Linked DNA regions of Homo sapiens: region 1 is linked to region 2. The links come from fine-mapping of genetic effects on gene expression. A gene starts in region 2. The other region holds a variant in brackets. All regions are shown on one strand. Distances are from middle to middle. Region 1 overlaps SLC16A7 (solute carrier family 16 member 7). Region 2 holds the start of SLC16A7 (solute carrier family 16 member 7).

Region 1 (2,922 bases), 93 kb before region 2:
TCTTCTTTCTTTTTATCAGTGGACAATGGTATTAAAGCCTGAATTCAAATCCACCTCCTTGAGATTTACTCATTTTTCTGGGTATCTCACAAGTATAATGATGTACATACTTTAATAAACTTCTTTTTGTTTTTCTCTTGTTAATCTGCACTTAGTTACTGGGGTCACAGCTAAGAACTCAGAAAATATAGAAAGAAAATTATTTTTTTCTTCCCTTACATAGGAAGCCTGAACAGTGCTGAACAGTGCTCCCCTCCTGAAAAGGAGAGTCAGCCCAAACTTTTAAATATGATTTTCATGTCCTTTAGGGAAAAATTTATCTGAGAGTTTTACATGTTACCATGTGTGCAGTCTTTTCTTCTCTCCCAGAGTCATGGCTTAGGGAAATTACGTATATGGCTCTACAGTAAAAGAGGATGATAACAATCATTGTGTGTATATCCCGTTTTGTTTTTGTTTTTCTCCTTCTAAAGCTTTTAAAGCCACAGAATCCTTTCTAGGAATGAAATCTTACTCAGAATCCTGCTATGCAAACCAGCTACTCTGGTTTATGGGGTTGGAAGCATCATAGAGAGCCTGGAATTCCACTTATCAGCATCCCCTGACTCCTGAAATTGTCCCTGGTTCTTCCTAGAAAGTTTAGAATTCCTTAGAGCATAGCTGGGAAGCCACTTAATAATACTTTTCTCACCTTTCAACTTAGGAAAAAAACAGAATTATATTTAAGAGATTTTGGATCCTCCATTTTGCATTAGTTTCCAAAGATTCTCTGGTGTTTTGGTTCTTTTCTCAATTTGAAAGCATTAGATCATTAACTGGCACTACGGAAGAGGAGTTAAAGAAAAATTCCTGGATACTTCTAGGAAGATTACATGGCCAAAGAATACCTTTCTGACTTTTATATTAAAATGCCCATTTTAAAAAATCAAATAAAAAAAACCCCACAGGATCTCCTGATATCAATGATGAGATTCAGAAAGATGTTAGAATCCCTTAAGTTTCTAAAAAATACAGTATCACTGAGGCAGGATTAAGAACAGTACCACAGCAAGGTGAACCAACCTGGCGACAGGTGTTTAGAAACATGGTCTTCCATTTCACCAAGACATAAGTTTCCCTGATCTATGGACTCCTCTCCCCACCTGAGGCAGAAGTTTCCTTGTGAACCATTGCTCTTTTTAGAATCCTGAACATACTTAGTTCCATCTATCTCTTTG[T/A]CACTCAACACTTTGTCAGCTAGTCTCAGGATTCTATGACCCCTTCCCCTAGCTCACTTGAGTAATCATAATATGGGAAAACTAATCTAAATGCCAACTCTGAGAAGCGGTTGCATATATTACTGTCATTCACTTGATAAACTATTATATATACATTAAATAATGATTAGGAAAGCTCCATAATACAAAGGGAAGTATTTATTATATAATTTTTAGTTTAAAAATAGTGATATAAACCTGTATGATAGCATAATTCCAAATATGTGATAAAAGACACATGTCAAAAAAACATAAACATAGGCTATAGAATTAGGATAAGGATTGCAGAAAAAATTATAATTCCTTAATTATATTAAGTTGATATAATACCACTATAATGGCATAATATATACAGTACTTAAATTAATATTACACATTTACTTATTTGCCCTAATTTTGATTTTTATGTCTGCTTTGAAAAATAGGTTGCTTTTAACTAGTCCACAACTGATTCAAATATAGTTTTTGTAAGGAAACACAATGAAACTGGAAGCTGTATTTTATTTACAGATCTTACCTACGTTGTTTTAAGTTTCTCCTTTTTTGTTTTATATTGATTTGTCTTTAGTCATACCTAAATGAAATTATGAGACTCCTGCATAATTGTAAAGAGGATACTCACAGACAGTCACCACATAAAAATTTAGATATAAATAACATTTGCTGATTACCAATTGCATATATATAAAACATTGCTGCCACCTGTTATGGTACAGGTAAGTATCAATAAGCAAGACACTTAACAATTTAATATGCATTTTCACATAATACTATCTTTTAGCTATTGTCTTCATTTGGCAGGCAATGAAAATAAAGTTCAAAGATGTCAAATATCTTGTTCAAAGTCTTAAAGTCTACCGCAGTATTCGTCTCACTCTAGAACTATGTTTTTAATGAATTAAAAGCCATACACTTCCTACCAACTTACTATCTTTCATTCATGAACTCCTTAAAGTGGTCATATTGCCACTCCTTCTCCACCCTCTTGTATTTTGCTTGTTCTAATAATGGCTTTCCTCGTGGTCACTTGCCTGGGTTTTCTGCCTCCACCATTCCAGCTATGTGCTTCCCCAATGACTTCAGGAGACACTCAATTAGTTGGTAATTATCAAAAGAAGAGGAGGAAATGAAAGCTGGAACCCACAGAATGTTAACTATCCACTGGAGTCAGAAAATAATACCAATAATCAGGATTATGAAAGAGCCATGTTGAAGGGAAGGAATGTAGAATTCATAGGAACTTAATAAAGTTACCAGGTCTTTCTTCTACCATACACTTACGAGTGAATTGAATTGGTAGATTTTATTTTTGTTAATACTTATTTGTCCCCTACTCATACTTGTCATATTTCTCTGTAGGCAAAGTATAGCCCCCATCCATTGACTTTAGGTTTGGACATGTGACTGCCTTTTGCCAATGGAATGTAAGTCAATGCAGTGTAGGCCATGTCCAAGAGTATGTTTAAAATGTGTTTGCATGTTTTGCCTTTATAGCAGTCCTTGCTTTCCAAAATAAGAACATGTCCCTTTAGCCTGGATCCCAGAAAATAAGAAAATGTTTGACGGTTAGCTGAGCCCCTCAGAACCAACCAGAGCCACAGCTGACCCATAGTGCCTAAGCAGCATGGGCAAGAAATAAATATCTGTTATTGTAAGCCCTAAGAGA
Region 2 (2,922 bases):
ACTGGGCACGACCGCCCTTTCCAAGGCAGTCTGCAATCCTTTTCGCGGAAGTAGAGGAGAAAAGGGGGTGGAGAAGGGCGCCGCGATGCAGCATCCGCTGAGAAAACAGGCAGTTCGCACGTGAGCGGGCTCGCAGCCTGTGGCGCCACCTGACCGGGCCTGGCGCCCCCAATGTGGTGCAGTGGCCCAGCAAGACCAGAAGGCTCAGGCCCTCCTGAACCCTTGCCAAGTCAGAGGTCCCTTTCTGCCTGGGCTCAGGCCTCGCCCGCATATAGTTTTCCATCTGCTTCCACCCCTGCCATCCTTCCTGGGGACCAAAAATGAAGAAAGACAACCCCCCCATCCCCCGGTATTTCGTCTTCCCCTCACAGCCTCTTCCTGTCCTGATCATCTGCTCAAAGAGAAGACGTTCTCTCCACACACTCCACCCCCGCCTCCACCTTCTGCGGCAATGAAGCCACGCCACCCTAGGGGGCTCGGGGGCCGGATGCTGGCGGGGCGCGCACTAGAGACACGCCGCACTGGAAGCAGCCCTCGGAGTCCCGTGAGCCAGGGAGACTGGGGTGCACCGCGCCACGCTGAGTCTCGGTGTAAAAGCCGAGAGCGTGAGCACCTCCTGGCCGAAAGCACGCGAGGCGCTCCTTGCCCAGGACCCCGCGCGCCCCCTCAGTTCCCGGGCAGCTGTCGGCGCGCACTGGCTGACGCGAGCTCTGCTCCCGCGGCCGCTTCGGGATTTTTTTGTCTATATAAGGGCTCGCTGGCCAACTCTGCGTTGGCACGTTTGTCACAGGCTGGCCATTATTTGCACACACGCGTGCGGCTCCGCGGGCAGCTCGGGTCGCAGACGCAGGCTCGCCCTCCTCTTAGCCGGCACCTCCTCCTCCTCCTCCTCCTCTCCCCTCCCTCCCCAGCTGTACTTACTTTATCTGGTCTCTGGCGCAGGGTGGGCGCTGCAGCCCTCCGTTCCCAGCAAACCGCAGCCGATTCGCCTCGCTGTCAACGGGTGAATGGAATTATTTATTTATTTATGGCCCCTGACGTGTCCTCGCCCGCCACAGCCAGCGGAGAAGGAGGCGGTGGCGGGAAGGGGAGGCGCGGCTGCTGAACGCCCTTGTGGGTGCGGAGGAGCGCGCGCCAGGGGTGGGGGCCGGACAGGCTGCGGTGGAGGCCGGCCCGGGGGGTGGTGGGGGGGAGCCGCCTCCCGGTGCCTGGAGACCGACTGAGCATGCTCCAAGCGGCTGTCAAAGCTATAGGCACTTTCTCTATCGCTCGGGGCACTCCACTTCGGATTTTAGTTTTGACCAAGGAAGAAAGCCAAAAGGCAGGTAGATCTGTCTTTCCAGATGGGTCGTAACTTGCTGTATCCGAAGTACTCTGTAGCCTGACCTAGAAGACAGATGTGCGGTAGCTCTGTGCAACCCAAGCATGGGAGAGGAAAGCATGCAAAAAAAGAAGAGTCTGGCCGAATGCAGGGAGAATAGGAGATCCTCATTGTGAGCTTGCAGGGAAAGTGTTGAGCCATTTTTCAACTGAGGCCTTTTTGGGAGAAAGAGGTAGGGCACTGTTGGAGATTAGACTCACCAACCAAATCACTTCACGGAAAAAAATATAATTGACACCATAGGAGGAAGGACATAGAAAACAGCACCAAAAAACATTAAAAATAAGAAGGATTTTTTTTCAAATCATTTATAATTCCTTTCATTTTTAATTTCTCAAATTACTTAGTTCTTCAAACCAGCATTTAGTTATTTGACAACGAATAGTGCTAGAGATAATGGTAATTCTGCTGTCATTGGTTTGGTCTCTTCCCCTGTCTAAAATGTGCTTCTTGGTAAAACTGGAAAGAGGAAGGGCTGGAAGAGAACATTTAAGTAACCCCATAGATTGGGTTTCTTTAATATCTTTAAGTTAAATTGCCACTTTAGAGAAAAAGAAACTATCCAAAAGAATAATTGTAGGTTTTGGCTTGACAAGTCCTATTGCAGTTTGTCTACCAGTTTAGCTAGCTTTCTCCTCCTTGATTTCACAATCATTTTAAGGTGTGTTCTATGATTCTTCACATTTTACGAATTTATAAAAAGAGTTAAGTCATTTGGGTAAATTCACATTGTCTTTGCCACAGCTAGTCTGTTGTAATGGACGAAATTTGAATTTCAATTTCTGTAGCTATGAAATAAAAGTAATATCAATCGTGTTGATTTCATAAGATTTAAGTGAAATAATATACATGAAGTGGCTGGTAGGCATAATACAAGATGAAAAAATAATCGTGATTAATAACATCAAAATTACTGGAAGATAATTTTATTGAAAGAATGATATTTGAAAATGAAAAAAAGGCAGAAAATTACAGAAAGGATTTTATATTTTTAAGCTAAAAATGCTTAAATAGACATTTGTATAAGACATAATAGGCCTTTGATAATGATGAAATGTCTAGCAGTGACTATAAACACTTCATTTAATTAAAAAAAGTTAAACATTTAAAAGAAACAACATAAAGGCACATTTCAAGGTCATAGTCTTGAGTGTTTGCTATTGATATTTTTCCTGCTCATTCATCACTTTTATTTCCTGTCAAAGAAGAGGAAGAAGAAAGACCATATGCTTTCTGAATTTTGATCCTATTCTCCCTTTTCCTTCTCTTTGATTTTTCTTTTTTGTTGTTTTTTTCTTATAGTCCCATGTTCTTGACCTGTTTAACCTATTGCTGAATGCCAAACATCACTACTTATAGCATGATATCGTAACCTTCTTTTTAAGTCTTGTTTTTTCAACAATTAAAACTCTGGATCTAATTTACCTACTGTCACAGAGTTAGTATTTGGGAACTCATTTCTAAATTGCTTTGTTGTGATAGCTAGGTATGTTATGTAAAATTTGATTGGACTAGAAAGGTATCTGAAAGGAGGGAGAATC

The links.
Region 1: its variant is fine-mapped to the expression of SLC16A7 in testis (GTEx, PIP 0.95).

The regions. Positions count from the first base shown.
Region 1 is chr12:59,687,611-59,690,532 of GRCh38, reverse strand. All of the region lies in intron 2 of SLC16A7 (solute carrier family 16 member 7), which reads right to left. Among named protein-coding and RNA genes, the nearest start is that of SLC16A7, 93 kb to the right of the region's middle. The variant T/A (reference allele first, on the strand shown) is at 1,218.
Region 2 is chr12:59,594,236-59,597,157 of GRCh38, reverse strand. It overlaps SLC16A7 (solute carrier family 16 member 7), which reads right to left and starts at 1,129. Exons shown (of 6, transcript NM_001270623.2): 1 at 922-1,129. RefSeq lists enhancers at 321-470, 521-660 and a silencer at 1,131-1,200.